Homo sapiens: one gene and its partners. The protein of the gene in region 1 interacts with the protein of each later gene in a biochemical or structural test. Each region holds a gene or a part of one and is shown in the gene's direction. Other genes may lie near its edges. The genes, in order: LIN7A, KCNJ12 and PALS2.

Region 1 (7,686 bases):
ACACAAAGTTTAGGTCAATTTCCCCAAATATAAACCAGATATTTTTGGCACTCTCAGATAAACAAGTATTATTTCTCTTATAATTGGGCAGGTGGAAACCAGTGATATCAATATTGTGAATGGCAGATGCTGCTTCCTCTAGAAAAATAAAATAAAATCACCAACTTTAATATATTCCCATAGGTAAATAGACAATGAGATATCATTTTTCAGAAAATATCATTCACTGGAAAATAATCTGTTATAACTACATTTACAGGTCATAATTTTTGGTTTATGGTAAATCTAGGCACCTAAGTCTGATTTTACTTTATGAAATAAATAGGAAGCAATAATTGTTTGGGCATTTGAATACCTTAAGCACATAAATGAACCTAAGAAAAGAATAATTGCTTAGTTGAAGTATTCAAAATAGATCAGTAAACCACAGGCAAATATTTGAATGTTCCCTTTTCTCAAATACAGAAATTGATTCCCCAAGATACAATACAATTTGACACTTCAGATAATCCCCCAAAATAGAAATGTATGAAGCTCAGTTTAGACTGTCTTCTTGAAAATAAAACAAAACCAATCAAAACTACCCAGCACATTTTATTATGCCCTGTTGGGTGATAGTATTGTCAATACCAGGTTTTCCCTGCTCTTCACAATGCATCCCTCACCAGAGGAAAAACAGCAAGAAAACTAGGACATTTGCTAATTTCAACAATACACCCCTGTGATAACAGATTCCCATCCTTGAATACATATCATTTTTTACTAGAGAGAACGGGGGTGGTGAGGTGGGGGCAGTTAGGACCCTGTATGTTATGTAAAATAGATTTACAAAAAGGACAAGCATGATAAAAGGGAATGAATGGAGACGATGTATTATTCAGTTTGAAAGAGATAGTTCACATTTTTATAAGAAAAATTTAATAAAACATATATTTTAGTTATCATTTAACAAAGATATATTAAAGCTATTCAGGCAATGCCACAGGATTCTCATGAAGGGAAATCACTGAACCCTTGTCATGAGAAAATGGTCATTTCAACACATTTCAATACATTGTATAAATTTGGAGCTTAAGGTGAGTGAGTATGTTTTCACTTAGTCATAAATGTTTGGTCAAAATTAAAGTTATCATATGGTTTCACATCAATACAAATATTGTCACAGTGTTACAGAAACAACTATCAAATGGTAAGATAGTTTACATTTGTGTTTTCTAGAAACCTTTGTATTTATGCTTCATTTGGTTAATGTTAAGTGCTGATAAAGGCATACCAGATTGTTTGTCAAAGTAAAGAAGCAATCCATCACACCTAGGACATCTAAGGATGGATTATACGTCAGAGTGGTCTCATATACAAATGACCATTTTCCTTCAGTAAAATCTTGTTGGTTGAAATGTAAGTCTTTTCCTAAAGTTTTAATCAGAGGTAGCCATCACTAAGACTTAAGCCACCTGTGGTTCTCTTAAGTTTCACTGAAGCCAGAAGAAGGAAATTACCACAACTTGTATTATACTAATTATCTTCATTATTAACGATCATATTAGAGCCACTGACATGTCCCAAATTATATTAAAATAAAAACCTGCATTGCTCTGACATGAAGCTCAATTCAATGTAATAAACAAATTAGGTATTAAACGTTATAATTTAAAAAACTTCTACGATATCACCAGAAATCCTGGTGAAATTTAATTTTTTCCCTTTTTTAGGTCAGTGGCCGGTGGGATAGATTTTTCTAAACTTTTTCCTGCTATGATTTTGAAGGCAAATACATAGAGCACAGTTCAGTAAAAGAGTTTCCAAGCCTTTTCACTGGAGCATTTACATTTTGATTCTGTTGTCATTTGAAATAGAACATCTGCAGGGAGATAATGAGCTTAAGTTACAATTGACTTTGGAAAGAATAACAGACTTTTGTGTTTCCTCAATCATGTAGTCAATAGGGAATTCTCCAGTTATGTGAACAATCACAGTCTTTTAAGACAATACTTAGATCTAAATGCAAAATCTAGCATGCAGAGGCTTTTTAAGGATTTTAGACTGTCTCCAAAGAACTTGGCTCGAGATGGATTACACAGATTTACAAATGCAGTTTTCAACTGTGACATCAAACTGATCTTATCTCATTTCATGTTACTCAACTGTGCCCGTAGGACCCCAAGAGGTGGAATATTTTGTCTACATTATTTTAAACATCTATAGATATGTGTGGATGTGTGAATAATGCCTAAATTTCTCATCTTTTAACTAGTTTGTTTTTATCATACAGACACAGCCTGTTCATAAGACCAGCTTTAGACAACTTAGAACTCAATGCTCTGAAGATTCAGGGAGGCCAACATAGAAAAAGATCTTCCAAAATATGGGGTGGTCCAACCCATCTCATCCCTCTCTAGCTGGAAAACTATAGAGAAAGGGCTGTGACTGCCTTGACCACTGCCTGGCACAATGTAGGCACTCGGTATTTGTTGGATGAATAAGTGGCTGAATCAGTGAATAGACAAAAAACATGGATTTTGCCTTCTGAAAATCTCACAAATTTTACCAGCTTATATTATACTGATTGTCACTATGATTTCTAAGTTTCATGGTTAGAACCATATTTTGAGTCTATATAAAAACTTTTTAGATGTATGAATTTGAAATTTCATTAATTACTTTAAAGGCTTCAAAGATTTGAGGACATTTGAACAGTGGATAAGGAACAATGTTTGGGGATACAGAGTTTTTATGCTGAGTTGAACTCAACCTTTCTAGTTCTTTATACAAGCTTCCTGAATTATCTGGCAGGAATGATTCAAACATAAAACCCCATTTTTAAATTTTATAAAAGATATTTTCATTTTTATATAAAAAGATCATCAGGCATATTATCCCCTTTGATATTTATTAACAACCATTCTCTAAGAAATTCATAATAATTGGAGACACCATCCCTAAATCTCTTCCTATTTTCAAAAGATCATTTATCCTTTCATATTTGATTCCTGGAATACACTAAGCTGAAGTTTAATCACATACTTACTCAGATGTTTCCATGTGTTTATTCATTTAACAAATACTTATTGTGTACCTAGTGCATGCTAGGTTCTGGAAATGCAACAGCAAACAAGACAGACACAATCCCTCTTGGAGGTTACTGTGAGAAACTCTCCAACATTTACTCTAGCAATAACTAGAGAGTTTACTGTCCATTGGGTCCTCTTCACACCTGATAGAAAAAATAAAATTCCTCACCCCATGGAAGTCATGAAATACTCCCTGCACAGATTTGTGTGAGCTTGCTTTTCTAAAACCACTGCTCAAAAATGCTGCTTAGTTTATCTATAAACCACGGTTATACCCCAGTGAGGTAGGTAAGTAATTTATTCATAACTAACATTTATGCAGCTCTATTTTCTAGCCACTGTGCTGAGTGCTTTTATGGACTATCTCACCAAATCCCTTCAACAACTCTATTCAGTAGGTTCCATTTTATAGATACAAAAACTGAAGCACAGATATATTATGTGACTTGTCCAAGGTCACACAGCTAGCAGGTGGAACTGGGATTTGAACCCATGCAATCTGACACAAGAGTTCATGTGTCTAATCATTATCTGTGGTTTGGGGGACACCATTACATTAAAATGAATGAGTCACTAAGTGAGTCACTGTATATAAAATACTTGGAAATTGTAAAGTAATATACAAAAGATATTAACAAAGTATTATTCATGGTAAACAAATCACATCAGTAGCAAACACAGGGTGGGAACTCAATCTTATGTTATAGCTTACTCTTAAGAAGAATATGTGAAGCCAGGAACATGGTTAAAGGTACAGACCAGAAAATTTCTGACATGTGATAAATATTTCAGTGACTTTTCAGATTTATTTCTTGTTAGCCGCTGTGTCTATTTGGTGCTACAAAAACTGAAAGAAACAAAATCCCTGATGTAAGGGCTTATAATAAATACACAGTTTGGAGATGAACTAAGGATATTTTACATTTACGGGAAAGGATTGGACAATAGTATCATTTTCTCACCATTTGCATGTACATCATGTCTTTCCAATTGTTTTCATTATTTTTCTGAAAGAGCTGCAAAATTGTGCAGTGGTTCAACCTGACCAAAGTGGTATTATGCTGCTGGGAAGTAAAAGTATTAGACACCAAACTGGAAGTATTGTTTTCATTATCAAATGACTTTAAGTTCTTTTAAAGCATGGATGTAAAAGAATTTTTAGATACTGAAGACACCTCAATATTGGGATGCTAAGTTTCTTGGGTTTCTCCATTCTTGACCACACAGTGGTGTCATTCTATTGAGGGCTTAGATTCTGTAAAGGAAAAGACAAATTTTTTTTTTTTTTGCTTTCTAGTCTCAAACTCAACATAGAACACTTCTGTGACCAAATGTAAAGGTTTCCCCACCCCCCCACCCCATCAATTTTCCAAGCAGGTACCAAATGGATGTCCTATAATTCAATTCAATTCTGAAACTATTTACTTGAAGATGGTGTAGATTCCACAGATTGAGGGCTCAGTCTCACAACACTTAGCCTACTTAAGATGCCAATTGCAAGTAGTAGGTTGTCACCTGTCCTTTGACTGGCTGGAGACTGAGATTCTCACAAGCCCTTCTTTGGGTTCAGCTGGGACAGCTCACAAAACTGAGGAAAACACCTACTTAGTTTACTGGTTTATTATAAAATGAATCATAAAGGGAATTTTTACCCAGTTCAAATTATATGGTCATGTAGTTACCAGAAACCTATATTCAAGAATGTTTATCAGTGTCCTTTCCATCCTTTCACAAACCTCTTTGAAGACACAAATATTCTAGGATTTTGCTTGCTTGTGAAGTTTTCAGAAACTGCATCAGAATTAAGCAATTAACTGTGGAAATGACTTAAGATAGGCATAAGGACACAATCCACAAGGAAATTTGGTTATATCTGTGGCCTACAATAATTTAACATATTAACCATAATTATGAGTGATAGTCTATACCCAGACATATCAGAATTTTAGGAGTCCCATACAATTTTGGAACATATATTAATAACATATTTATGAAATACAACTCAAAGAAGGTTAAACATCATTTCGTATTTGATAAGGCTTCCCATGTAATTTAATACATCAAATAATTCTATTTCTCTCGCTTTTGGAAGCTGCAGGGACCTTCTCTAGCATCCTAACTTTAGAGGTCAAAAAAAAAAAAAGACTTAATTATGAAGATGAAATTTGATTTTAGGAAACCTGTCAAATATGTGTTTTAAAACACTTAACCAAAATAGAATCACAGGCCACTGTAAAATAATGATCATCCATGTAGCCAAAATAATAATTTAAAGATTTTGAAAAAAAGCAAAAACCTTTACTCTTTGAGAGAAGACCCGGTTTCCCAAACAATCAAAATACCTGAGAGATAGAGCATGAGATGGAATATGTCTCTCTCTCATCACTGTTTCTTATTTTTTGCTTTTTACTCAAAAGGTGAACAAAAACATTTTACTGACATATTAACACTACAAAAAATTTTTGTTCAAAAGAGAAAACCAAATTTTACTTTTGGATTAGTATATTATCAACACTAAAGCTAATTTTAATAAAACCTTATAAATCTATCAGATCTGTCATCTTATAGCCACACAATATTTTCATACACACTTTTTTGTTTTACATTTTCTAGCTCTTCCAAACTCTCTATATTCATTTAGTTTTACCTATTTCGTATTCAATTTGAAATTTTTAAGAAACTTCTACACTAGACAAAATTATTTTTATGTCAACACACACCTTTATGCCTTTACAACTTTCCTCACCAAAAGCGTATCTTGCTTTTGTTTATACATTCTGTATAAATAATTGTTTTTTTCATATCTAGTAGTTTTAATTACATTAACTCCAATTTTAACTCTCAGTAACCCTAATTTCTAGTGAAAATATTAGGAAGAAATTTTGAACTGTTTTATATCAGTATTTATAGATAAAAAGAAGTTTATAGTTTTTTAGAAAGACATTTTCCTAAATTATTGTTAACAGATCTAAATATATTTAGCTTTTCTATACTGTATAAAAATAATATGTCAAGGTATATAGACTTAAACTCATGCCTGATAACTAATATTTCAGTATTTTACCTTATTTAAAAATGACTCAGGCATTTTATGACTATTAATTTAACAAAAGTTGACTTTAAAATTTTAAATTACTGAAAATAATTTTGAAACTGTTACCAGGGGTCCTTGCTCCCAGAGCTCCCAAGATGGTGGTGGGCCACTTCCAAGATGGTGGCAAGACTCGTGTTCTCTGACCTGGGGTTCTTGGCCTCACGGATTCCAAGGAATGGAATCTTGGGCCATGCAGTAAGTGTTATAGCTCTATTAGAAGTTGTGGGTCATGGAAGAGAACCGTGGAACCCAGTGACTAGTGTTCAGCTGGATTAGGATGAACCCAGGCACTTAGCCATGCAGGAACAATGGCAAGCCTTTAACCCAATCGGGAGTGGCAATGGGCACCTTGCTGGATCAGGAGCACAGCGGGCACCCTGCTGGATCCAGAGGGATGGAAGTCAGTGGCGGGTCTGTGACAGCGGCAAAACAGCAGTGGTGGATGGTGAGCGAAAGCTCAGCTGGAGCCGTAACAAACATGGACCAGAAGAGTGCAGTTGCAAGATTTAATAGAGTGAAATAGAGTGAAAACAGAGCTCCCATACAAGGAGGGGACCCAAAGAGGGTTGCCGATGCTGGCTGCAATGCCTGGGTTTATATGCGGATCCTTGTCCCTCCCGCTGGGCTCTCAGGCAATAAATGATTGGCTATTTCTTTACCTCCTGTTTTTGCCTAATTAGCATTTTAGTGAGCTCTCTGATTGGTTGGGTGTGAACTAAGTTGCAAGCCCCATGTTTAAAGGTGAATGTGGTCACCTTCCCAGCTAGGCTTAGGGATTCTTAGTCAGCCTAGGAAATCCAGCTAGTCCTGTCTCTCCAAACTATAGCACAAATACCCTACCCAATGTCTTTCCTAGTCATCCTGGGTTCCAGATAGCCACGTGGCACCCAAGAGGACTATGAAAAGCAGGGCTTGAGTCCTGTATTTATATACCAGGTATTGAGGTCAGGATAAAAGACAGAGCCAGGGAGAAAATGTTTGGAGGATGGAAACCCTCCCAGAATAGCCAGGAGGCAAAGCTGAGACAAAGAAGAAGGGTCCATAGTGGGCCTGTCTCTGTCTTATAGCTGCTGGTCTAGGTACTGAGAACATGTCCCCATGCCTCACAATGACCACCTACTCAGACTCTCAAATCCAGAGGCTCAACCAAAAACACAAGCTTGCAGTCAAATCAAGCAAGTACTGAATTATATTTAACTGATAATTTTGAAGCCATTCCTATTTTACCAACAATTTTTAAAACTAGCTTTTTTTCTTTTTTTTTTTTTACCAAATATTATCACATACACATAATGTATACGGACATACAAACACAGATAGAAGCAGATCTTACAGCTTTTATAAAGGATTCTCATTTGTCAGACTCTAAGTGGATTTCCCCCCTTCAGCCTATCAATCTTCCAATTACCTGTTTCATTGTTCTAAGCAGTTGTTAAGTAGGCACCAAAGTGGTATTTCTAAAGGCACAATTCTTACGTGAAACAAGATTTGTATTTCAAAAGCACAGAGCTAAAAGTTTAG
Region 2 (12,009 bases), on another chromosome or scaffold:
CCGAGAGGGTCACTCCCGGGGTCTGCTCAGTTCCAGGCACAGAACAGCAAACTTCTCGGGAAGCCTAGACCAGACACACCGGGGGTGCAGCTAGAAGGGGCTCAGGCTCTCTGAGTTCAGCCTGACCACAAGGGTAGGGGACAGTGGGGAAATGGAGGCCTCGAGAGACCCCAGAGCCAGGGGCTTTGCTGTGGGGCAGGTCCTCGAGGCTGGCTTCTAGCCTTCCCAGCTCTCGGAAGCCTTTCCCGGCCCCAATGCCCGGTCATCAGGCTTTATTCCATTTACAAATAACTTGACTTAAAAAAAAATTGCTGAAACAATAAATGCTTGCTATACAAAATGCAAACAAACAGCCCTGAAAGCGTACAATGTGCCCACGTACCCAGAGTGCAAGCGACTCTCCTTCCTCAGGGCCCAGTGAGGCTGGGCTGAGTGCTTGCCCACGTCTCCCGCCTGCAATGGGTGGCCTGGGATCCCACCAGGTGGGTCCGAGCCCAGAGCCCTGGGGAAACAGGTTTAGACACTTTCCTCCGTGCCACAGTGAATGAGGAAAAGGTCCCAGGAGGACACAACCACCAACAATTTGCCTCCAAACTTCCAGATTTTTCTCTTTGCTAATGCAAATATATCTGTCGTTTTTCTTAACATAAACAGAGTCGTGCAACAGGCCCCACGCTGCCTTTTGATTCTTTTTTTCTCTGTGTGTGTTGGGGGGACAGTGTGTTTTGGACAGTTCACACTGCTGTCAGAACTGGCAGATCGACCTTTCTATTTCAGTCAGGCCCAACTCAGAGGGGCCCCGGGCCAAGGACTGGAGCCCTGCCCCCATGAGGAAGGAGGGTCATGGGGCTGGTGCTGGGGCAGAGGCCCTATCTGTGGAGTGATGGCCCCACGTGGGGACAGGGAGGAGGCAGGCAGTGCCCACCAGGGTAGAGAGGGGCTGATAATTGGCTGGATTATCCCGGCGGGGAGGCCTCCTTGGGGAAGCTATTTTTAACTCTGAGAGATGCTGCAGCCACTTCCCTCCCTCTCTTTATTGCCCTTTATTCCTGGGGCCTGCAGGCTTTGCCCGCCTTCCTGGAAGCTCTGTCCCTTTAGAGGCAGGGAGGGATGAAACGCTCCCCTCACATACCATAGAGTGTGGTCCCCACATGGTTCTGGCAGGGTTCTCATGCGCCCCTTTTTAGAGAAGGAGAGAGAGCTTCAGAAAGCTTGAGGGGCATTTTGGAGGACTTGCTGGTCTTTTTACGTCTATTGCCTTCCCGGCAGCCCCTTGAGGCTGTTAGAAATTTCCTAAATTAACAAAGGGGTGGTTTTGGCTTACAATAAAAAGCCCATGGGTGGATCTAAGGGGCTCAAAAGACCAGCCCAGAACCTTGTTTCTCTCAATATCTCAGCTTTGCTTTCTCTGGGTGGGTCTCATTTCATGCAGGCTCACCCTACCTGGGGGCAAAGGTGTCCCCGGGGCCCCTGGCCAGCCCCAAAGCCCTGGGAAATACAGCTCCTGCTTTCCTGCAGACCCAGCAAAAGTCCTAGGGCTGATTCTCATTGGCTGGCTTCAATCATGTGTCCATCTCTGTACCATTGCTGTGATGCTCACAGCCAGACCTGGGTCGCTCACCCACCCCTGGGCCCTGGGGGTGCCCCAGGCCCACAGGAAACATATGGTGGAGGGTATGGTATAGGAGTAGGGAGACCCCAAGAACAAGGCTCTCAGAAGAGCAGCTTGGACATGGGAGGACTTGGACCAGTGTCCAGCATGCCTCTAAGTCTCTCAGCCAGACAGAAACCCTGACACCTAGGTCTGCCCAGGAGATGCCAGATGGAGCATGGCTAAACGTCCTGGCCTCAACCTTGGCCCTGGTGGCTGCCCTCCTGGCCACAGTTAGTGCATCCTCCTCCCAGCTGCTCCTCCCGCAGAGGGCGGGGCCACGGGAGTGCCGGAGCCTGCACACGGGAAATAAGTCAACCGGTCAGCTCCAGGCCCAGCTGATCAATGCCTGCCTCCTGATGGGGCAGGAGGGACTCAGTGTCCTGTTTCCAGGGCCGCCAACCGTTCCTGAAGTTCTGTGTGCCTCAGATCAATGCTGCAGGGTCAGCCAGGGGCCCAAGGGCACCTGGGCAGGGGGAGGGGCGTGTGTGCATGCACGTGCGCGTGTGGGTGTGACTGTGTCCTGGGTCTGGGCCATGTCCCCACAATGCTCCTGGGGGCAGCCACGTCCTCTTGGGCAAGTGCTTCTACCCACCTGGGCGTCATTTCTCCGTCCATCTGCCTGTGGCCTGTGGCGCAGGTTGGCATTTAGCCTGGAGCCTAATGCATGGCAAGTGCGTGGTGGGCATTGGCCCTTGTCACTTTTGCTGTTGTTAGTATCATCAAAGTGTCTAGTGACAAAAGGTGTTTAGGGAAGAGACTGGGCTGAGGGCAGGGCTGCTAGAACTGGTCTCTGCTCTGTGGCTCACTGCCTGAGGGACAGAGCCTCTTTCCACCTTGTCCAGCCAGGGTGTGGATCTGGCTCAGGTGGAAAGCAACCCCACCAGAAGAGCATATCCTGGAACCGACCAGCACAGGTCCTCCTGCTGGCCTTATGGTGGGTGGGGGTGGGAGGCCAGGTGAGACCCAGACCCTGGCCGCCTGCCTGGAGGAGGGGGCAAGGCTTGTGCTGACAGACAGCCTGTGATTGCAGGGGCCAGCGCGGCTCGGTGATGGTGCAGGTGGAGTTGGGAGTGGCTGTGAGAGCCAAGCTGCGCAGAGCAGGGTGAGAGAATCCCTCATGGATGAGACGTTCCTGAGTCGGGTCTGTGAGCACTCGTTTTGCACTCACTGCATGCCCTCAGCATGTGAGGTCCTGGGCTGCAGACACGCCTGAAGGACATGCTTCTGCCCTCATGGAGGTGCCATGCTGGTGGGGGGACCACAGTGAGCCAGACACCTCAGAGAGTGGCCAGCTAGGGAAGAAAGCAAGCTGAGCACAGCAGGTGCGTCCTGGTGGTCGGCAGGCCCCTCACGGATGTGCCGTCACAGCTACCCTTGCACGTGAGGCAGTTCAGAGAGACAGCGTTCCTGACTGAGGGGGAGGCAGGCCCCAAGGTCCAGTGACAGAATCAGGCTACTGGTGCCCAAGGGCCTGAATGGCCAGTGTGTTCAGAAAAGAGTGGCTGAGAGGGGGAGGGTGTCTGGGGCCTCAGGGACTTTGGCTATCACTCCTAGAAAGGTTAAACTGGGCATGCTGAGAGCTCATTTTACATTTTGATGGTGGGAAGACGTGAGGGCCAAAGCCGGGCCAAGGTCTAGGGTGGGCAGGGGAAGTCTCAGTGGGCTCTTGGGAGGAGGCATCTTGGAGGGGAGGAGATGCTGGGACTCTGGGGAGCACTGGTTGCAGCTGCCTGCAGGGCGAGCAAAGCCGCTGGGGAAGGGCCGTCTGGTTTCACATCTCACTCGGTGATGGACTTATGCCTCCCACAAGCGCATCGGCATTGTGGCATCAAGATGTGATTACCACAAGAGCTGGCAGCTGCTGTCGAGAGGCTGCAGCTCTGGGGCTCCTACACACAGGGCAGCGAAACCAGCCTTCGGGACACCTGCCCTGGACAGCTCAGTGGTCATCGTAGCAACCTTCCCTCTCTGGGCCTTGCTTTCCTCAAAACAAAGCCATGATTCCAAATGAGCCGAGGAGCTCTTCTGTCTCCTGGGCCTGTGGCTCCAGGGACACTCAGATATGCAAAGGCGTCTTGAACAGCCAACACGCCCACCCAAAGCTGGGAGAGACTGGGCTGCAAACAAGCCTCAGTCTCACCCCTGTCTTGGAGAAGCTCCCATCCTGGAGGGGAAGAAAGAATCTGGGATCAAGGGAAAGCCAGGTGCAGGGCACAAAATTCAGGGTGTTGGGAAGGTGTGTGCGTGGTGGGACAGCTGACTGCTGTTCATCTCCCTGGCTTCTCCCATGGCTGTGCCAGGAAAGTTACTACTCTCATGGCCTCGGCTGTCACGATCACCCCCATTTTACAGAGAGGGAAGTGGGGCCTTAGCAGGGGACGTGTCCCAGGTCTCCTGCTGGGCAGCGTTGGTACTGGGCTCAGTCCATTTGGCCTCACCCAGCCACTCTCGACACTGCCCCCTCCACACTGTAGGGGCAGGATGTCCTCTGCTCAGGCTTCACGCAGCACCCCGGGAGGGCCGTGAGCCCCTCTGCCCACGTGGGGATCCCTGGGGCAGATGTGTGAGCTGCTTAGGGAGAGATCTGCCCACATCCCTGCCTCTTTGTGTCCCAGCCCCTCCTGGAGGGAGGCTGGTGCCCAGTGGCGTGGCAGAGGGGATTTGCTTTGAGGGGCCCTTAATGGCTGCTCATGGGTTGCAATTACAATTAAGAATTGAACTCTGACCCTGCACGTGGGTTGGGAGGGTGGGACGTGGAGCCCAAGGGAGTGGCCCAGGGAGTCAGGCTTGCGTCTCTGCTGGGTGACCTTGGGCAAGACGCTTGCCCTCTTTGTGAAATGGGTCTGATAATGGCTCTGGGAGTGGGGATAGGGAGGGGCGGAGACCTGGCCTGACTCACAGTAGTCATCTTGGGTGTCGAGCCCCTGGGCAGGGGCCCTGTGTGTGTGTGTGTGGGAAGGGGGGGGTGGTGTTCCAGGCGTGAGGATGCCCTGGGCACAGCCACTTGTCCCAGGAGCTGTCAGAATCTTAGACCCAGAGGAGCCCTGAGGTGTTCCCGTCCATTCCCTTGCCCCTTTCTAGGCCACCAGAGTAAGGCCTCGAGGGAGGGATGTCTCAGGCCCCATTCCTCTTGGGACAGCTGAGTGGTCTCTGAGGGTGGGAGCTGGTTTGAGGCTTCTTCCGCAGCTGGCTTGGGCTTCCCCATCTGGGAAATGGAGCAGGGGCAGGTGGGGAGCTGAGTCATTTCCCTCCTTGGTCACTCGGAGGGAGAAGAAGGAAGTTTCCTGAGAGCTTTTGGTCCCCTGGGAGGCTGTTTCTCCCAGGAGGAGGAGGAAACCAGGACACAGTGTGCCAGGCAGGGCAGGGTGGGGGCTGCAGACTTCTGCGATGCCCCTTCTTTCTCCACTGCAGCCCTAAGTTGAGGACACACCTGATTCTGCGTACTGGCTCCACCATCTGGTAGTTCTGTAATTAAGCAAGTGACCACCCCTCTGTGCCTCAGTTCCTTCATCTGTAAAATGGAGCCAATGAGCTTATCCACCACAGATGGCCGCAGTGGTAATGAAATAATTCTAGCTGGGTCCATAGCACAGAGCTCAGAACATATTGAGTGCTCCGCCTGGCTGTTTTACCAGCCAAGTCAAGTGCTAAGCACTTTAGGTAGACTCATCTCATTTAATCCTTGCTACAGCCCCATGAGTGTAGTGATTTCTACTGACAACAGGGAAACAGAGGCACTGAGTGGTGAAGTGACCTGTCCCACAGCTAGTCAGTTGAGGTGGGATTCAAACCCAGGGCAGACTGATGTCGGTGAGTGCTGGGCTGGATTTCACCCACCAGCTGCCTGGGGCCAGGATCCTAGGGCTGGTGGGGCCTGCAGATCACTCTGCTCTGAGCCGCCAGCAATCTGGGTGCGGGCCAGAGAGCCGTCCTCCTCGGTTAGAATCCTGCAGCCAGTCTCCCTGCTGTGCAGACACATAATTATATTTCACATTAAAGGGGAAGCTGGAGGCCAAGGGGGCCAAGGAGCCCTTTGAGGCTCATGCTCTGGGCACAGACTGGCCTCCTCGGCCCAATTCTGAGGCCCTAGGGCCGAGCTGGGGGTCAGACTGGTGACAAAATGGAGTTCCCCTGGGTCAGTGTCCAGGCGAGCAGGTCTGTCTGCCAGGATGAAAGACTTGGCCCCTGCGGGAGGCTCAGAGATATGAGGCCCAGACAATAGGCCTCAGAAAGCTGGGAGGGCAGGGCATTTGGGGACAGGTTGGGAAGAAAGCCTGAGCCTCCAGAGACAGGGGCTCGAAAGAGAAGGGGGTCACATGGGGATCCGGTCGGCAGAGAGAGGTCCAGGGAGGAGCACAGAGAAGGCAGGAGATGGGAGAAGCCAAGCAGCTCAAGATGGAGAGGAGAAAAATGCTATTAGGGTGGGATGGTGTGTGTAGAGGGTGCGTGCCTGGTGTGCAGGGGAAAAGGGCTCTGTGGGAATGCACAAGCTTAGACCTGTGTGTGCGTATGCACACGTGCAGATGCCATCCTGCATGTGCACATATGAGCGAGTGTGCACATGTGCCCCTGCGAACATCATGCATGTGGGGGCATGTATCCTGCATGTTTATGCCTGTGTGTGTGCTCGCCATGCACCTGTGCGTGCGCGCGTGTCCCCGGCGGACGTGCCTGCATGTGTGTGTATGTGTGTGTGCGCGCATGTCCCCGGGAAGTCGTGCCTGTGTGTGTGTGTGTGTGTGTGTGTGTGTGTGTGTATATATATATGTGTGTGTGCGCGCGCGCGTCCCAGTGCGCAAGTGGCTGGCGGTGTGTGTGTAGGGGGCGGCCCGGGACTAGGAGGGGCTCGGGGCCAGGCCGGAGCCGTGGTAGGCTGGTGCAGCGGCTGCGCGGCGCGGCGCGGCGCGGGGCGGGCGTGCTCTCCGCGGAGAGTTAGAGGAGTTGCCGAGCTGAGCTCCGGTGGAGCGAGGCGCGGAGCTGGGTGCGCGCCGAGCCTCTGCCTCCCGCCGCCTCCTCGCCCTCCATTCCTCGCTCCCCGTCTTCTCCCGGCCACACCGCCACTGCTGCCGCCTCCCTGGGAACAGTAGCCGGGGGAGGGGGACTGGCGCGGTCAGAGCCTGCGAGGAGGTGCGGGGCGCCGGGGCGTAGGGGAGCGCGCCGGGCCCTGCCCGAGATCAGATAACAGCCGGCGGGGGAGGGGGTGGGCCGGCCGTGCTCACAGCCGGACCGAGGGACCGACGCCAGCCGCCCCGGCCCAAGCGAGCGCCCAGCGGCCGGGGGCGCCGTCCAGGCGCGCGCCCCCGACCCGTGGCTGGACCAGGGCGATCCGCTTTGCAGAGAAGACGCGCCCCTCGGCATGGAGCGCCCCCGGGAGCTGCCCTGAGGCGGTGGCGGCAGCGGCGGCGATGCAGCCAGCGCGGCAGCTGCCGGGGCCAGGAACGGCCGCCCGGAGCTTGGAGGACGCCGAGCGCGCCGCGCCCGGGCCACTGACCGAGGTAAGTGCGCGGCCGCGGGCGCATGGTCCCTCCCGGGCCCGGCCCCAGTTCCCCGCAGGCCGCGCCTCGCCACTAGCCCGGCCCGGAGCTAGCACGAGGTTGTGCAGCAACAGGGAAGGTGGAGCGGGAGGGTGTTTTCTTCCTCTCGTTTTATTTTTTTCCCTCCCTTGGTGAGACATCGGAGGAAATGCTGACTGCGAGCTTTTCTTTTCCTGCCATGTCTCCGGCTACCACCACAAGGAACTTTGCTCCTGGCTAACCTTCGTCCTGGGGGGCGCTCCGGGAAACTTTGAGGAGCCCTCGGCCCCCCTCTGACTGGTTTGCACTAGGGGGCTCGGGAGGGAGCGTGCGGAAGCACTCTGGCGCGCGGCACGGGTCCTACGCGTGACCTTCCCGGAGACCCCGCGATCGAGGTGGGGTTCGGAGGTGGGCGCCCGGGCTATATGAGCCGCCCCGAGAATGCCTCCCGTCAGAGACCTGCGGGTTCTTGGAGTCGTGTCTCTTTCTCACCTCCCGTGCTGTAATGGAGTAAAAATATTCTGGAAATGATTCCATGCCAGCAAGTCAGCCAAGTCCAGAGGCTCCCTTTTGCTTTTAGAAGTCGGCCTTGATCTCCGAGGGGATGGCCGCTGGCTGAGAAGCTCCCAGGGTTTCAGGGCCAGGGTCCACCCTGCGCGCGCACGGCCTCTCCGGGTGCCCTGGGGGAGCGGGGCGGGAATCAGGGGCTCATGGGCAGAGACAGCTGGGGTGGGGCGCTCCTTGGGGGGTTCAGATGGGAGTTGAGGCCCAAGCGAGTGTCTGTGCCTCGGTTTTGATCCAGCGTGCCCATGTCATGTGAATATTTTAAAACCTGTGATCAGAATGGGGGTCAAAGTGTTTCTTTGGGGACGGTCTTGTTCTGGGAGGTTTTCCTGCCTCCTCACAGCCTGGACTCGCCCGCACCTGGGACCTCCCCCTCCCCATTTCCCAGGGGGCGTTCCCATCTTAGAGTACCGCGCTGCCTGTGGCCATTTCTAGTTTCTTTTTTGCTCCCCTATACCCAGGTTCGAGCCCTGCAATAAAGCGCTGGGGACCTCCTGGCTCCCACATCTGCGCCCCAAACCCAGGTTCACAGGCTCCGTCTCCGAGAGCGCCGAGGCGCCCACACGCCACTGAAATCGGCAGCCGCCTTTGGAAGGTGCGAACCCGGAAGGCGTTAGCCTTGGGCCTAGCCTTCGCCCCCTCTGAGATGCCAAAGGAGAGCCGGTCCCTGGCCGCGCGGCTGGACCCCAGCCTCCCTCGCGCTGCGCTGCACCTCCGCGGCCCCTCCTCGCGCAGCTCCGCCCTGGACCGCCGCCCTGTGGCGGGCGAGGGTCAGAGAGGGGAGGTCCATCTCAGCCCTGGGCGCCACCAGAGGCTTTCGCTCTTTTTGAGGGGTACTCCCTTCTGTATTCTGAGAAGAGCCCCTCAGTGTCTGCTGGGACCGCCCCCCCCAACAAAAGACTTCACAGCGAAGTCTGCCCCTCAGTTCTCTGGTGGCACCTCCAACCAGACAGGGGACCCGAGGTTGGCAGCTCTAGGAGGGGGACCCTGGGGGCCTGCCATTTGGTGGGGCCAAGCCGCCTGAGAGAGAGCAGGGAGTGAGGGCGGAGGGCACTCACTCGAGCACCCTGGAGACGAGGAGGGTGGCTCCAGTGTGCTGGGCCACAGGGACACCCCTCTTCTCCACTGGAGGGCCGCTGTAGGCATACAGTAGGCAGTCTGTAAATGCTGGCTGTTGACCCAGAGCTGGCAGGTAGGGGCTCCAAGTCCTCTATCACCTCCTTTTTCCCCTCCCAGGGGAGGGCATGGCTGACACCCCTCATCCCCAGCACTGAAGGGGGTGGAGCCTTCTCTGGGAGGGGCAGGACCTGAGCTGTCAGTCCATCTCTGGACACTCCCCCTGCAGCTACCCCGTCAAAACCCCATAAGGTTTCCAGGCTGCCCCGGAGGGGACCCCTCCAGGAATGTGCCTCAACTGTGCTGGAAGGAAGAGGTGCCTGGGAAGTGGTGGAGGGGTATTGCCTAAAACCATGCAGTGGGTTGGGTTTGGACAGATGCCTTCACCTAGCTCTTTCCAGGCCAGGCGCTTACCCCACCAGCCTTCCTGCCCCAGGGCCATGGTGTCCCCATCCCTGGGTCTCCTTGAAGCAGGACAAAGTAACACTGAGTGGCCCTGCAACAGCAAAATAATAATGACAGCAGTGATAACAGGAGTAACAGCAGCAGCAGCACCTGCAGCTCTGCAGCACTGGGGCCGGTTCTGCCTATGGGCAGTTTTCTCTGCCTAGCCAGGCCTCCGGTACCCTGGGCCACAGTTGGCAGTACCAAGCGTGGCACCCGGAGGCCTTGGCATATGGCTGGGGCGGAAGTGAGTGCATCATTACTGTCATCAACCTCTGTGGCCCTCGCCAGGTCCCCAGGCAGAAGGCTACTGGTACACACGGTGCCCACCCAGTGGCCACCCTCACCCCCCCTGCTCCCAGGCCCAGCTCTGGGCTGGGCCCTTCCTCCAACAGGTGCAGCTGGTGCCTGTGGCTGGGCCCTGGCCAGGGCTTTACTGTGAGCGACACATGGGTACACCTGCCCCTCCCCGGGCCTGCCCTTGGAGCCCTGCCACCGGCTAGCGTGGAGGAGAGTCAGGGAGGGGGCAGCTTGCGGGCAGCAGGAGGGGTGGAGGCTTGGCTGGCCACATGGAAGGTGCGGTGGGTGGGGGCTCAGCCCCACGGGATGGCTGTGCCGGGAACTGGCAGCGTGATGGGGACACGGCAGCAGGGAAAGGCTGAAGATGAAAGAGAGCTGGCCTGAAACTGGGCCGTGTGCAGGTTGGCCAGAGCTTCAGAGGCACCATGGGGTTGGGGGTGGGGGGGGGCCTGGCAGAGGCAGGTGGGTTTTCTGAGGTGCTGGGCTCGGGGCAGGACCAGAGCCCCCGCTGGGCACTGGCCAAGGACCCAGCCCTGGGTCAGCTGACTTAATTTCCTAATGGCCTGCCAGTGCAGAGGGTGGCATTAGCTCTATTGTGCAGACAGGGATTGGAGGCCCAGGGAGGCACTGGAGGCACCAGCCTGTGGGGCTCAGACCCAGAGCCCTGGTGCTTTCCCAGGGACAGAACTGCACCTTCCCCCATTCCACAGACACACCCCTCAGGGGCATTTGACTGCCAGGCTAGCTTTCTCCCTGCCTTACCACCAGGCAGGTCCCACACAGGGCCTGAGGCCTGCATGCCATCCCAGCTCCCGGGAGCTGTATTCCTAGGACCTAGTTAAGCCCTGGCACAGAGTAGGTGCCCAGTAAATGCTCGATGATTCCATGTCTGGACTGCTTCTTCCAGCCACAGAGGCCTTGCTGTGCTGGTGAGAGCTGTGGGGGCTGAGTTCTGGGGCTGGAGACCCCAGGCCCTGTTGCCTAGCTGTGGCCCCTGTGCTGGGTAGCCATACAGAAGTGCTTAATCAATGGGCATTGCATACGGGGAGACCCAGCCCCTGCCCTCAGGGATCTCACTATCTCAGAGGAGACTCTTGGACAGACTCAGGGGGGCAAGAGAGGCAGATGTTGCCACCAAGATGGGGTCACTCTTCCTGGCCTCAGTTCATCATCTGTGAAGTGGGACTGGCTCCGGAGAGTGCTCAGGATGGGGCAGTAGGAATGTGAGACTTGGAGCGTGCCTCTGGGAGTTGGGGGTGGGGAGGGGCTGGTCTCAGTAGAAATGGACGTGTGGAGAGGGGGATCTGGGAAGGAGGGGGTGTGAGCATTTGTGGAGCCAGAGCCTGGGGAACTCGTCATTTCCCCATCCAACCTTCCCTTGGACATGTAGGGAAGCAGGCCCAGGGCAGGGCAGCGAGTTGCTGTAGCAGTGGGCCCCAGATGGCAGTGGGCCCCAGATGGCAGTGGGCCCCAGATGGCAGTGGGCCCCAGATGGCAGTGGGCCCCAGTGCAGGCCTCCTGTTTCCTGGTGTGTCCTCAGTGTCCCCTAACCCCAATCACCACCACTGGTGCTCCACAGCTCACTCCTTCCTGCCTGGCTGCTGAAGTGGCAGCATGAGGCTGTGGAGACCTTGGGGACCCCCGCCCAGCCCTCTAATTAGCCTTCAGCCATGCATCATTGGACATGGTTCCATTTGCTTGGCCAGATAGGAGTGGGAACCCCTTTCTCAGCTGCCCCAGGGAGCAGTTCCGCCTTGGCTGTGCATTAATGCTGTCCTAGGGTCAGTGGGCACAGCCTCCTGGATCCTGCCTGACTCCCCCTGCCCACCTGGACTGAGCCCTCCCTCCTGCTTGGGCAGCCAAAGCCTCCCTCTCCTGCCCTCACCTGCAGCCCAGGCCTCTTTGAAGGACTCAGGCTTGGAGAGGGGCCAGGGAACAAACAATAAAGCTTATGGAGTGGAGGCTTCTACCAGAGCCACTCTGGGCCATTGTTCCTTGAGCACTTTCTATGTGCCTGGTGCACTCTGGGTGTCAGGGCCCTCTGTCGATTCCCACCACACTCCTCCCTGGGACCCTCAGGGCCCTGCACAGTCTGGCCTCACTTCCAGGACTCTTGCTCCCTCCCCGGGGCCACGCTCCTGCTTGCCTTGCTGTGCTTCCAACAGATCAGGCCCACTCCTACCTCAGGGCCTTTGCACATGCTGCTATCTCTGCCTGGAATGTTCTTTCCCAGATCTCTGCACGGCCCCTCCCTTACCGCTTTCATGTCTTGCCCAGATGCCACCCTCTCTCCAGGACCTCCCCTGATTCCCCTGTGGGACACTGCAGCCTCCCTTTCCCCCATGTTCCTTTTCCTGCTTTATTTTTCTCTGTAGAACTTAATGCTATCTGCCACAATATATTTTATTTGCTGATCTT
Region 3 (12,539 bases), on another chromosome or scaffold:
ATTTATGTAACCAGAAAAGTCTAGAATTAAGGCTGGCCTCAGGCATGACTAAATCTTCCCTTTTTTGAGATTCTCAAAGTGTTGATTTGAAAAGAGAAAAAAAAAACAAATTATCTTTCTTCCTACTGCAGTACAGAAAAATCCAAAATTTTCTTTATTTAGGTAACATGTCTACTTCTTGCACTAATCCCTATGGCTGAAGGGATGGGGCACTCTTATTGGCCAGGCCTGGGTCACATGGCCACTCTTGTAATTTAAGAATATGGGGAGGATATGGTGATTAGTAGTCCCACCAGAATCTAATGCAAAATAGATAGCCTTTCCACAAATGCTACATTGTTAAAATACACACATACAGTAAGTCTGTAGATCGTGGTGGTGAATCTGAGTTAAATAACATGCTACAGAGAACCTCTAATTGTAGTAACTCGTACTATAATTCATTCCAGTTGAATTGACCTGAAAGTTACAAAGCACTCTGTGTATGAAGTGTGGGAATGAGCAGGAGTTTTGCAGCAGAGCTTCTTTAAACACTTCCTGGTTCTGAAGCCTGAGCCATTAACTCCTCTTCACTTGTTTTCTCATCTGAAAAATGGGAGTAATAGTAATGATCCCCATGGGATGCTCCATATGAAGGTTATACACCAGTGTCTGCCACACAGGCATGAGCTCAATAGATAGTTGTCATTCGCTATTATTACCAAAGCAGGATTTTTTAAAAAGACTTGGTCTTTCATATTTATAAACAGCTGATATTTTAAGGAAAAACTAAATGCCCTGTACTTCCTAGCATGAAGATGGCATTGCTTTAAAATGGGCCATTAACTTCCCAGATTGTTAACAGCCAAAACAGCTTGCCATGGCTGCCCCGACTCATACACATACACCCCGACTTCCATCATTGCTTCCACGTCCCTTATCCTATCCATCTTTCATTCATTTATTTACCAAAAATGTCTTAAGAGCCTACTATGCATCTTAATGACTTGCTCTTACCCTCACGACTTCTCCTCAGTCCTTTGGAGGAGCATCGGCCTCACAGTTTGACCCTTTGTTTTTATGTTTAATCACCATTGACACCCTTTTTGCCTGTCATGCCAGAAGATTCTTCCAGAAGACCTCCACTGCCCTCCAGGACTTCGTGCCTGTCTGTGTTTTCAATGGGGAAAGGTACACACTATACTGACACTATATATTTTTACAAATTTTTAAGAAAGGTTTTTCCTGTTTTCCTATGTCTTTTTAATCTTCTTTTTGATACTTGAGTAGAAGGATTTTTTTTTCAGTTCATATATATAATGGGAGAGGTAGAATTTAGAGGCCGATTTTAAATGAGTATCTAAAAGGGTTAATTACATATAGATGCTGGCTCCTGGTGAGATAAAGTCAAGCTCAATTAAGGTCACTGCTTGAAATCTGATTGTCTTTCTAAGAGCTTTTCATCTGTAACTTGCATATTCTGGAACAAGTGTTCAATTGTAATTAGCAACATTTTTCACTTAATTTTATTTAATTTTAGAAGTCTACCAACTAACAGGTTTATCTGTTTCAATAAATGAGCAGCTACTATGTGCAGTACTATGCCAAGTGCTACAGGCATTCCTGTACACATCACCCTGGATTTTACCTGCAAGAAAGAAGGGGATGGGGCTGAGTGGCGGTAAAAAGAATGCAAAGATAAATATTTGAAAACATAAATGATGCTTTTATGAAGCAGAATAGGAAAGGAGCCATAAGATGCAATTAAAGTGCTACAGGAGTTCAAAGGAGAGCAATTACACTAGTCCCTTCTTATCCAAGAGGGCATCCATTCCAAGCCCCCCAGTGAATACCTGAAACCATGGATAGTACTGCACTGTACATATTTTATATATATATATATATATATATATATATGTACTATGGTTTGTAGACATACATACCTATGATAAAGTTTTTAATTTATACATTAGGCACGTTAAGAGATTAACAATAACTAATAATAAAATAGAACAATTATAACAATATACCTTCATAAAAGTTACGTGAACATAGTGTCTCTCTTTCTCAAAATATCTTATCATACTGTACTGAGGAAAACTGAAACCTTGGAAAGTGAAACCATGAATAAGGGGGGACTGGGGGACTACTGTACCTCTGTTTGAGGTGAGGCAGAAAGGGTTTCATGGAAAAGGAGGGTGTGAGATGAGCACACATGCTTGGATTTTGGCCAGCAGAGATGGCAGAAGGCAAAAACAGGGGTAGAAACATAAAGATACAAGATATGACTAACTAGAATATCCAAACAGGGAAGCTTTGACTGTCATTGTGAATGACCTTGTAAATGGGGTCCCGTAGGCAGTAAGGAGACAGGGATAAAATGACTGGCACCTGGCAGTCAGGGCAAGGAGGCCCTGAGGCAGGGAGATGAGTTAGGAGACTCTGTAGGACTAAAGCAAATAAACAAGAGAATCCATTCCTATAATTTTGAGAAAGTGGGCTGCAAGGGATTTGAGTATGTGTTTGTTCAGGAGATGGTAAAAGGAGGTAAAGGAAAGGAAGGTGCCAGAAAAACCAGCAGGAGCAACCCCGTGAATAGCTTATCTAGATGGAAATTTTCAACAGCGAGTTGAAAATATGCCTCAAGGGAGAATAGATACAGATGTGGAAGCATTGGTGCTAGAGTCCTAAGGATCCCTGGGATTCTCAAGATAAACAGTACTATCTGCTCTTTTTAAGTTTCTCCTCAAAAATTTATTTCATTCTTAGTGGAACATTTTTCTTTAGGAAGTAGGAGGAGATAACACAGCAAAGTAAGGGTCAGAGATGGAACAGTCAGAGAGGTCGAAAGAGCTCCCAGGTGGTATGGTATCAGAGAAGTTAAAGGAAAAGAGAGGTTTAGAGAGTGAGAGTACGAGAGATTAACCTCCTCAAACACTGCAGAGAAGTTCAATGGCATGAACACTAAGCAAAGACCTTCCCCACTAATTCTGTCATATACTATTAAGACACCTGGCATAGCACTTATTATGTAATATTTTGCTTATTATTCTTCGCCATTAGGTAGGGACTACTTGATATTGTTAATTTTTTTATTTTCATTATGCTTCACTAGTAAATGAGTGACTGAATGGATGAACACATGAATGAAAATGTTAATTGTGATGGAAATAGTAGTTTCAGCAGAGAAGTGGGTGTGGAAGCCCAATTCCAATGCCTAAAATAAACAAATAATGGTAAGAAAAGTCAAGGAGATATGCTGAGATATATAGTTTTCTTTTTTAAGGAAAAACCAAACAACCCCAAAACTCAAGTTCTTATAATGTTTGGCTTTAATTGTGATGATTAAAAAAAAAAAAAGAACTGCCATCGTATCAGGAAATGTTTTTTCAGACAGCTAGTTTAGAGGAGAAAGTTCTGCTAAGACATTTCTGTTTGAGACAGTTGACCCAGTGGGACTTTTGGAAAGATTTAGATTATAAGAAAAGCCTCTGACAAATATCTATGAAAGCAAGATTAAAACAATAATGTACACAATCAACTGAGGTCCAGCGGTTTGTAAACCAGTGCCAGTCGGGATGCTCAGAGCTGGGAACGGTGATCTTCAGGCAGCCAGGTGAGACTAATCTGGAGAAGCTTTAGGAAGGAGATAAATTTAAGCTGTTTTGAAAGGGGACTATTCTAGTCAATTGGCAAAGAGTCTTAAAGCACAGGATTAGGAATTTTAATTTGATTACTCGAGGTAATTTGGAGCTACCCCACTGTTGTGAAGATTTGGTATAAATGTTGTTTGGAAGATGATTCATTTCCATAGTTCTTAACTCTGGCTGCGTATTAGAGTTATCTGGAGAGCTCTGAAAAAATCCTGGCACCCAGGCTGTGCTCCAGAGCAATTAAGTCTGGGATGGCATCAAAGCATCAGTGCTTTGTTTTGTTTCTTAAAGTTCTCTGGGTGATTTCAATAAAGAGCCAAAAATTAAGAAGCACTGCTCTGAGTATAGGATAAATTGCAAGGAAGCAAGAGAGAGGCTAGAATTAGAAAGGTTAGCAAGGAGGCTGGAAATTGGAATCTGACCTAGCTTTGTGAGCAGAGATAAAAGGAGTGAAGCTAAATAAAGTATTCTGAAGGAAAACTTGGTTGGACTTTGTGATGCATGCCAGTTGCATTTTTAAATAAAGCTATCCTCCAGGAGTGTCACTGCTTTTACTATGATGGATTAGTTGAAAAACAAGTACACAGGATTTGCTTTTGCTAAAATTCGGGGCTATTAGCAAAATTCTCAATTTCTGTAGGAGCAAAGCAGGTCAGAAGAGAAAAGAAAATGTAATCACATTAAAAGTGTATGTTGTTTACATTTGAAGGAGGAAACAAAATTGAGTGATGGATGCTCCTGAATTAAGAATCAAAATTCAAATTTTAAATTGAATTACCGTTGGGAGATACTGGGCTGTGGTAAAATTATGATCCCTTTAGAGTAACCTTGAAGGAAATGAAAAGTCAGACTATTAAGGACACTGAAGAGAAAGATCCACCATCATTCTCAATCATATCATTCCCCTTTCTTGGAATGAAGAATTTGTAACCGGTATGGGAAATGGATGGTGGTGTCTCAGTATGATGACCTCTCAGAAAGCTGAGTTGGGAACCAATGATGGGAGTTCCAATGTTTAACTGAGAACACTTTAAATTTATCCTGGCATGTCCCACCTTTAAAGTTTAGAGGAAGGGCAGAATGTTATAAAATGGGAATATCATTTATAAAAGGAAATAGTGTTTCCTTTTATAACTGTATATGAGTATTTGATACAATACTCATCTGACACTGAGAGAGGAACTTCACCGGCAAGAGCTTTCTGAAGGGGAGCAATCAAAGACAGTTATTGGAGCAAAATCATTTTTCTGACTCTAAGAATGAAGCTGAGTCTTACGGCAGTGATAAGCCTCCATCTGATAGCTGCTGTCATTACTTAGAGCACAGACTTGGAACTGCAAATGAAAGATAATTGTTCCTGTATTCCTGCTCCCAAATGCTGGGTCTCTGGTAGATGCAGAGATAAAGCAGTTGGCCAGGAGTGGTGCCAGCTTTAAGTCAGGTAGGTCTGCATGTAATTTGAGGGGCAGAGCCTACCCCAAACCCTCCCTCCCTAAAACTTCCTCAGTTAACATCATTCTACTTGCAGGGAGCAGGGGTAGAGTAGGTTAGGACATTGTTTCCAGAAGACCCTTGAGGAAATAAAAGTGCACTATTAAGGATCACTAACATATCTGGAAATGACATTCATACCCTACCTCCCACCCCAACCCCAGAGAAGCTCAGGGCAAGTAACTAAGTGGCTGGGTCCAAGGGGATGTGTTAAGGTTAAGAGTCAGAAGGGAAAAGAGTTCACAAGCCTGGGTAGGGTACAGCAGGGAGGACCCATGGGTGTCCTGTGAGAAGCAAGTGGGCCTGGGGCAGCAAGAAGGACCTGAAAGGTCTTGCTGACACCCCGAGAAGACAAACCCCATCCTTCCGCTTTGTCTCTGCCTTGGGCTCCGAGCCCACTCCACTTCATTTCATCCAGCCATCCTGACTACAGGGGGCCCAAAGCTACTCTGTGCCCTGGGCACGTTTGAGTCTCCTTAAATGCTTCCAATTACCTTTGCCTGGGTTTGTGGTTCCAGGAAAGAAGGTTCTAAATTAACACTGTACAAGGCCCCCCTGCATGTTGGTTTGCAAAATTAATGATCCTAATGGAAAAGTAAATTAATCTTTGATGCTTGGTTGAGGATAAACACAAAAATCACTGTTTTGGACACTGGACCTTCTTAATACATCTCATCAATAGTATTTTCTCTCTCCCTTCCATGCCTGCCACATTCACAAAGAGAGGAGACAATACAACTTATAACTTCATCTCTGAATCCAAAGGGCCATGATGCACGCATTTATTCTGCAAACACTTATTAATGGTCTGGTTTGTGCAAGGTGCCCAAGAGAAGCCAGGAAAGGCTGCACAGAGGAGGCCACCTCATAACACTCCTCACACGTAAAGTTTGACTTGCACTTTCTACGTTCATGGTTTGAAAAGATTGCAGTAAGCATTTTGTAAAATGTAAATTACATTCTTCAATTTTAGGAAGAACACAATAGTTTTTCCAAAAGCCGCCTGTCACAGGTCTGAGGGTTCACAGAGCTCTTTTAAGGGGATCGGAAGTTCTCTGGCTGCCTTGCTATGTTTTTCTAGCCAGAAGTCTCTGCTGCAGTGCATTGCTCAGTTCCTTTCAACTGAAAAATTAAATCTGCACTTCTGTCAAAATGTGTCATCTACACATCCGGACACTCATCACAGTTCACCAAGCTCTACGCAGAGTCCAGGCTGAAAGGATGGCATGCCCTCCCCAACCCCACCCTTTTGAGGTCTGGGAAGCCCAGGTGCTGGGGAGGAGCTGAACAACTGTGTCCAGGGAGTGTCTGGCAAAGCCGACCCAGGGAGTTCCACGGGAGCCTCGGTGCTATGAAAAGAGCCAGTGTCCATGCATTTCCTCGGGTGTGAATCACACTGCCCGGTCGGGCCTTTGGGAAAAAATTAATGAAGGACACAGTCAGCGCCGTAGAACCTGCCAAATACACATCAGATCCAGTGGAGTCTGTGAAGGGGGAGGGGGAGATTTTTCCAGAGGCTTTTCTTCTCGTTCCATTTCTCTTTTGTGCCCCACGACTGGGTTCTTGAATGTAAAACTCTCAGAAAGGTCAGGGCGGAGCCTGTTTTATGCCCCGAGGAGTATCTTGCCCACCCGTAAATGCTGACAGACAGCTGCGACTTCGGCCCAGGAGACCCGGCGGGGACTGGGTCCGACCAGCCCTCTCTCGCGGGCGCAGGTCCGGGACCCCTGAAGCGAGCCGGCCGGGCGCAGAGCGCAGTCAGTCTGGGCGCTCAGAAGCTGGGAGGGGGCTCCACCTGGGCGCCCAGCCGCGGCGGGAGGGGCGGGGCCCGGCTTTCCGGAGGCGGTGGCACCTCCTCGCGCCCGAGCGCGCGCTCCCCGACGTCCGGCGCACGCGCGAGGCCGGCTGGGAGCGCGCCCAAGCGGCGGCGGCGGCGGCGGCTGGAGGAGGAGGAGGAGGAGGAGGAGGAGGAGGAGGGCGGCTGAGGCGCGGCTGGCTGCGCGCGCGGAGGCAGCGGCGGGGGCGACCGGAGCTGGGGCAGAGTGGGGAGCGAGGGAGGGGGAGGAGAGAGAGGGAGGCGGAGGGCAGTGAGAGACGCATTTCCAGTTCTCAACTACGAGCCACGAGTTTGCAGATGGGGCTGCTCGGCGGCGCCTGTGGCTGAGGGAGAGCAGCGGCGGCGGGGAGCGACCGGGAGCGGCGGCAGCGGCGGCGCGGAGGCGGCTGAGGTGCGAGCCGGTGAGTTAACTGGACCCCCACGCCGCTCGGGTAACGGTCGCGCCGCGCGCCGGGCCGGCCGGGGGCGCCCTGTTGCTCGGCGCGGCGCGCCACGCGGGGACCCTGGCCCGCCCCGCCCCCCTCGGCACCTGGGCTTCGGCGGGCGCGGGGAAGAGGGACCGGCAGGCGGCGGCGGCGGCGCCGCGGTCGGGGAGGCTGCTGGCCGCCCCCAGCCCGGCCCGCGCGGAAGGGGCGCTCGGCCGGGCTCCTGCCTCTCTGGCTGCGGGCGGCTGGGCGGGCCGGAGCTCGGCAACGTGTCTGGCCCATGCTGCTTGCCGCCGCTCCCCACGCGCTCCCCGGCGCGGCCCCGACTGGGGCTAGGGCCGCAGACGCGCGGGGCCCCTTCGGGCGCGGGGCTTGGGTGCCTACACCTCTGCGGCGGGAGTCGCGGTGGAGCCTGAATGGAGAGCCGGCCTGGGGGCGGCGTTGCTGTGACTGACACCTCCGGGGTCTGTCCCGAGAGGGGGTGATTCCGCCGGCTCCCGGTTCTCTCCCGAGCTCGGAGTTGGTAGGGGAGGAGGCTTTCTCCAACTACCGCCGCTACTTCCGAGGTACGAGACTCCAGTTGTTTGGCCAAAGTGGCTGTGGGCCGAGCACAGGCTGCCGCGGGGGCGTTCGCTGCTGAGATCGTGCTCGCGGATTCTCGGTACGTTTGTCTGAAACCAAATAGGTGCTGGGGCTTTTTTATTTTGGCTGGGTGGAGGGTCAGCAGGGGAGTCGATTGAGGTATCCGACCGTGTGGTGACAGGATGTGGATTGGTTGGTAGATGTTTTTTTGCAGAAGGACTTTTTAACACTTTACTGGGAGTTTATTCTCAATCCTACCAGTTTCTGGGATTGCAGCTCGAGATTACATTTGTTAAACTTCCATCAGTTGGGTGTGCATCTGTGTAGGGGGTGGGGGTGAAGCGAGGGAGAGAATTGAAGACTGCCGGGGAAGCTCAGAAAATTCTCCGCATTACTTATAAACAGCCGGGTAAGGTCAGGCTAGCCACGTTTTATTCTTTCCTACGCCTTTGGAGAGTGTTGGAATTTTACTTTGTGCTTCAAGTATATTACAAGTGGTCTTGTAGTGTAGCTGAGAACGTTTGGGGTGCGTTAAAATGCGTTTCAATTGGAGTATGATTTAGCAGCCATTTCTTCCCGTGAAATTTTGCAAATCATTTGTAAACTTATGTTGGTCGAATATACCAGGCGAAGTAACATTTTTAGTAATGCGGTATATAGTTTCCGTATATAGGTATAGCAACGGACCTCAAGTAATATTGCTTATTGTAGGCATCTACTGTGCAATGATAGGGTAGTGGGTAGTAGGCCTGATTATAGTTATGTCTTCTGAGGCCTTGTTAACAGTAAACAAAGAACTTTTGTGGGTTGTGTCATTTTGAGGTCATTTGTACCTTAAATCTATCATATATTTAAATAGGTGTTTAAATGCGTGTTTGCACGATGTGTTACTCTTTAAGGTCCATGTTTCCTTCATTCTGGACTACGGTTACATAATACACAAATGGTAACACTTTTAATTGCTCAATTTTGTCCTATGGAGACTGCACACCATCTTTATGAAAGAGGTGTGTATGTGTCCTTACTGATGCCACCGAATTCTTGACATCTGGAATGTCAAAATGAATTATTTTGCATTCTAGGTTAAATCAACACTGGAAAAATTAAGGTGTTTAAGCAAGTCTAGTAGCTCTATATAAGACAGAATCTTTTTTTTTCTTTAGGCCAACTGTTGGATTTTTAAAAATGAATCATATTTTTAAACATTTGAGGGAGCAGTTTGCTTCTGAGTCTCATTTTAGGCTGAAATTGTTCCAGAGCACTACATAGCCTGCTTCTCTCTTTCTCTCCCCACTCCCCCTCTTTTTAGCTTGAGATAACCAAGAAGACATAACTGTGACTCTATGTGTTATCTTTTTAAAAAGTTGTTTTAAAATTGAAGTTGCTTGTTTGAATATTTACTATCCCTTTACATGCTTTACTACTTAATAATGGATTAGCAGAATAAAACAGATATTTTAATTAAATGTCTTTCATATTTTTGACATCTGAGCTTTGTAAAAATGGAGTAGCATCATATTATTGCTGAGAGAGTTACAAATAATACAGGATTAGTGCTAGTCAAAGGCTAATTGTAAAAAAACAGCCAGAAAATAAAATTAAAAGAGGTAAGAGGACGCATTTATACTTTTGACATCACTCTAATATAAATTACCTATTGCTAGGTGACTTTTGAAAAAGAGTATCTTGTAAAATTCACATTAGGTATATAATAGTTAATAATTTTTCCTTCCAGAGTGATTCACTTGATGAGTGACTAGATTTTTTTTTTTTAAATCAGAACTCTACTTCAGGTAAGTATAGTTAACCATGTAAGTGATGTGCTGATGTTTATTTCAGGAAGAATGAACACTTACCCATTTGATAAATACTGAACTGTTTGGGAATATGTCAGTTATTCCTTAAAACTTAGGCGGAGAAAAATTATGCTAGTTTTGTTTTAACTGTAGGTTCTTTAGAAAAGTAGTCTTCACATTTATAAATATAAGAGCAGATAAGCACAAGAGATCTCTTTCCTGATATGGTGCTAGTATTGAATTAAAGATTTTATTTTTTTGTTGTAGGGACCAGTTTTGTTTAGTCTTCCTGTTCAGTCTCACAGAAGCTGCAATGATTTTCCTCCTTTTCTGTTACTTGTATCTGACCACTGGGGGGAGACTTTACAATTGGGCTTGACCATATTCCTTCTTTACATACATTGGCTGCTAATCCTGGGCACTTTGTCAAACTGCTGGGTAGTGTGCTGAGGAGGATGCACTCTGAAGCAAGTCTCAATCAAGGTGTTTAATGACTTTTCTTTCTTTAACTCACAGCATGCTTACAAAGTATCATTCTTTATAGACTGTGTTATTAACAGTCTACTGTTAAGTGGTCTAAGTATGCCTCTAACATAATGAAAGATAAGATTCCTGAATACATTATAGCTTTCAAAGATCCGACTTTACTTGCATTAATCTTAGAAGCAGTGTAGGTTTAATTGCTTGCTTAGAGTACACAGATATTAGTTGTCTGGAAGGATCTGGAAAGATCATCACTCTTCTGTGAAGTGTATCTATATCCAAACCCTTTAAACAAATTGGTCTCCTCTTATAAAAAGCTTTTGGAGGAGAAGATATTGAAGCATCCCATGTAGCTAATTTTAGTGTTCATTTCACCGCAGAGGGGAAGTTCTTCCTTTATCATAGTCATATAGATAAGATTAAAGCCCACAACTTTGTTAACCATTAAGCTGTGACCATTATTACCAGGTGTAATAAAGTCAAAAGCCTGGTTTCTACTTTTTCTTTTCTGACAGTATTTAACCTTGTTAATGTCCAATTCAATAATAATGAACTCAGTAAACAGAGGCTGCTACGTTTATAGTAGTTTAGAAAGAACTTAAGTTTTATGACCTTCCTTAATTATGATAGACTAATTCAAAGACCTTTCTATAATCTTTATCATAGTAAGTATATTCACAGAGTAATGAACAGAACAAAATTAGTTTCTATTTTTCCTTCATCCTAGGTTATTTTCCTTCTTTCCTTTAAGATGACTTTGCTTTCATCCGAAAATTCTTTTTTCCTTTTTTCCTTTTTTTTTTTTTTTAATATAGTGTACTAGAAGAGATACTTTCTGCTTAGGAATATATTCATCTCTGGCTAACTTTAGGATTGTGTTAAGTACTTGGGAATGGAAGTTTCTAAAAGCCTATCTGTCAGAGTTATCACTGATACAAGGCAAAATGAGAATTAAAGACAATATAATGAATATTTCATAAAGCTCAAGTTATTTTCAGATCCTTTCTACTGCTTGCTAGTTTTGTACATGATTTAATCCCTCCTTCACCAATTTACATCTTTTCCTCTTAAATCTATCATTTCTTTACCCTCTTCCTCCACTTTTTGCTATATTTCATCTACATTGCCCTTCATTTTGTTCCTCATCAATGCCATGGCTTGCTCCTAACTTAGGGCTTTTGCACTATGTTCACTCTGTTGGGAACTCTTCCTAAATCATTACATGAGTGACTACTTTTCATCATTTCATGTTGTAGTTCAAATATCATCTTTTCAGACAAGCATTGCTACCTAACCATCCTTCCAGAATGACACTAGCCTCATCCCCCTCAATCCCATTACCTTTTTTACTTAAAAATTTCTTCAAACCATTTATCAGTATCTGAAATTATGTTTTTATATTATTTTATAATCTCCATACTCACTAGAATATAAGCCCCGTGATATCAATGATCTTGTCTCTTTTTGTTTTTGTTTTTGAGATAGAATCTCACTCGGTCACCCCAGGCTGGAGTGCAGTGGTGTGTGTGATCACGGCTCACTGCAGCCTGGAACTCCTAGGCTCAAGTGATCCTCCCACCTCAGCCTCCTGGTAGCTAGGACTATAGGCAACAACTACCATGCCGAGCTAATTAAAAAAAAAAAATTCTGTAGAAATGGAGTCTTGCTGTGTGTGTTGCCCAGGCTGCTCTCAAACTCCTGATCTCAAGGGATTCTCTCGCCTCAGTGCCTCAAAGCACTGGGATCATAAGCATGAACCACCACACCCTGCTGATCTTGTCTCTTTTGATTAACACTATATTTCAAGGACTTAGACCTGTTCCTGGCACATAGCTGTCATTAAATAAATCATCCTTTTAAAAAATCTGAGGTCATGTTCTTTCTGAGGTTTCGGTGTTCAAATGCTCCTTTATAAAATGATAGTAGTATGGTAAACAGGCCTCTTTTGGCCATAAGTAATAGAAATCCATTCTAGTTGTTATAAAGGGAATTTATCGTTCAAATGCAGCCAATGTCCAGTGGAATGCAAGGACTGGGACTCCAGTGCCTGCAGGGCACATCATATCGTTTCTCTCTTCTTCTCTGTGCGTTTGCTTCATTCCTTCTCTTGCTGCAGAGGACCACTTCTAGTCCTCTTAGTGGAAAATATGGCCACCAGTAGCTTCTGAGTTTTCATGATACCAGCCTGGGAAACTGGAGAAAGGTTCATCTAGTTCTTCCCTGTTCAATAAACTATATCTCATTATTAGAACTTGGTTGTACTTGCTGTAACCACATGTAATGGGATTAAACA

The links.
Region 2: the proteins of LIN7A (region 1) and KCNJ12 form a complex in vitro, tested with the Homo sapiens proteins (2 studies listed by BioGRID and IntAct, with this or other methods).
Region 3: the proteins of LIN7A (region 1) and PALS2 form a complex in vitro, tested with the Homo sapiens proteins (one study listed by BioGRID).

What each region holds. Positions count from the first base shown.
Region 1 is NC_000012.12:80,788,997-80,796,682, reverse strand, and holds the end of LIN7A (protein lin-7 homolog A), read left to right. Parts: 3' UTR 1-4,163; downstream 4,164-7,686. UniProt on the Homo sapiens protein: Plays a role in establishing and maintaining the asymmetric distribution of channels and receptors at the plasma membrane of polarized cells.
Region 2 is NC_000017.11:21,369,765-21,381,773, forward strand, and holds the start of KCNJ12 (ATP-sensitive inward rectifier potassium channel 12), read left to right. Parts: upstream 1-6,592; 5' UTR 6,593-7,149; intron 7,150-7,155; exon of another isoform or gene 7,156-7,562; intron 7,563-12,009. UniProt on the Homo sapiens protein: Inward rectifying potassium channel that probably participates in controlling the resting membrane potential in electrically excitable cells. Probably participates in establishing action potential waveform and excitability of neuronal and muscle tissues.
Region 3 is NC_000007.14:24,566,233-24,578,771, forward strand, and holds the start of PALS2 (protein PALS2), read left to right. Parts: upstream 1-7,219; 5' UTR 7,220-7,361; intron 7,362-7,733; exon of another isoform or gene 7,734-8,046; intron 8,047-12,539.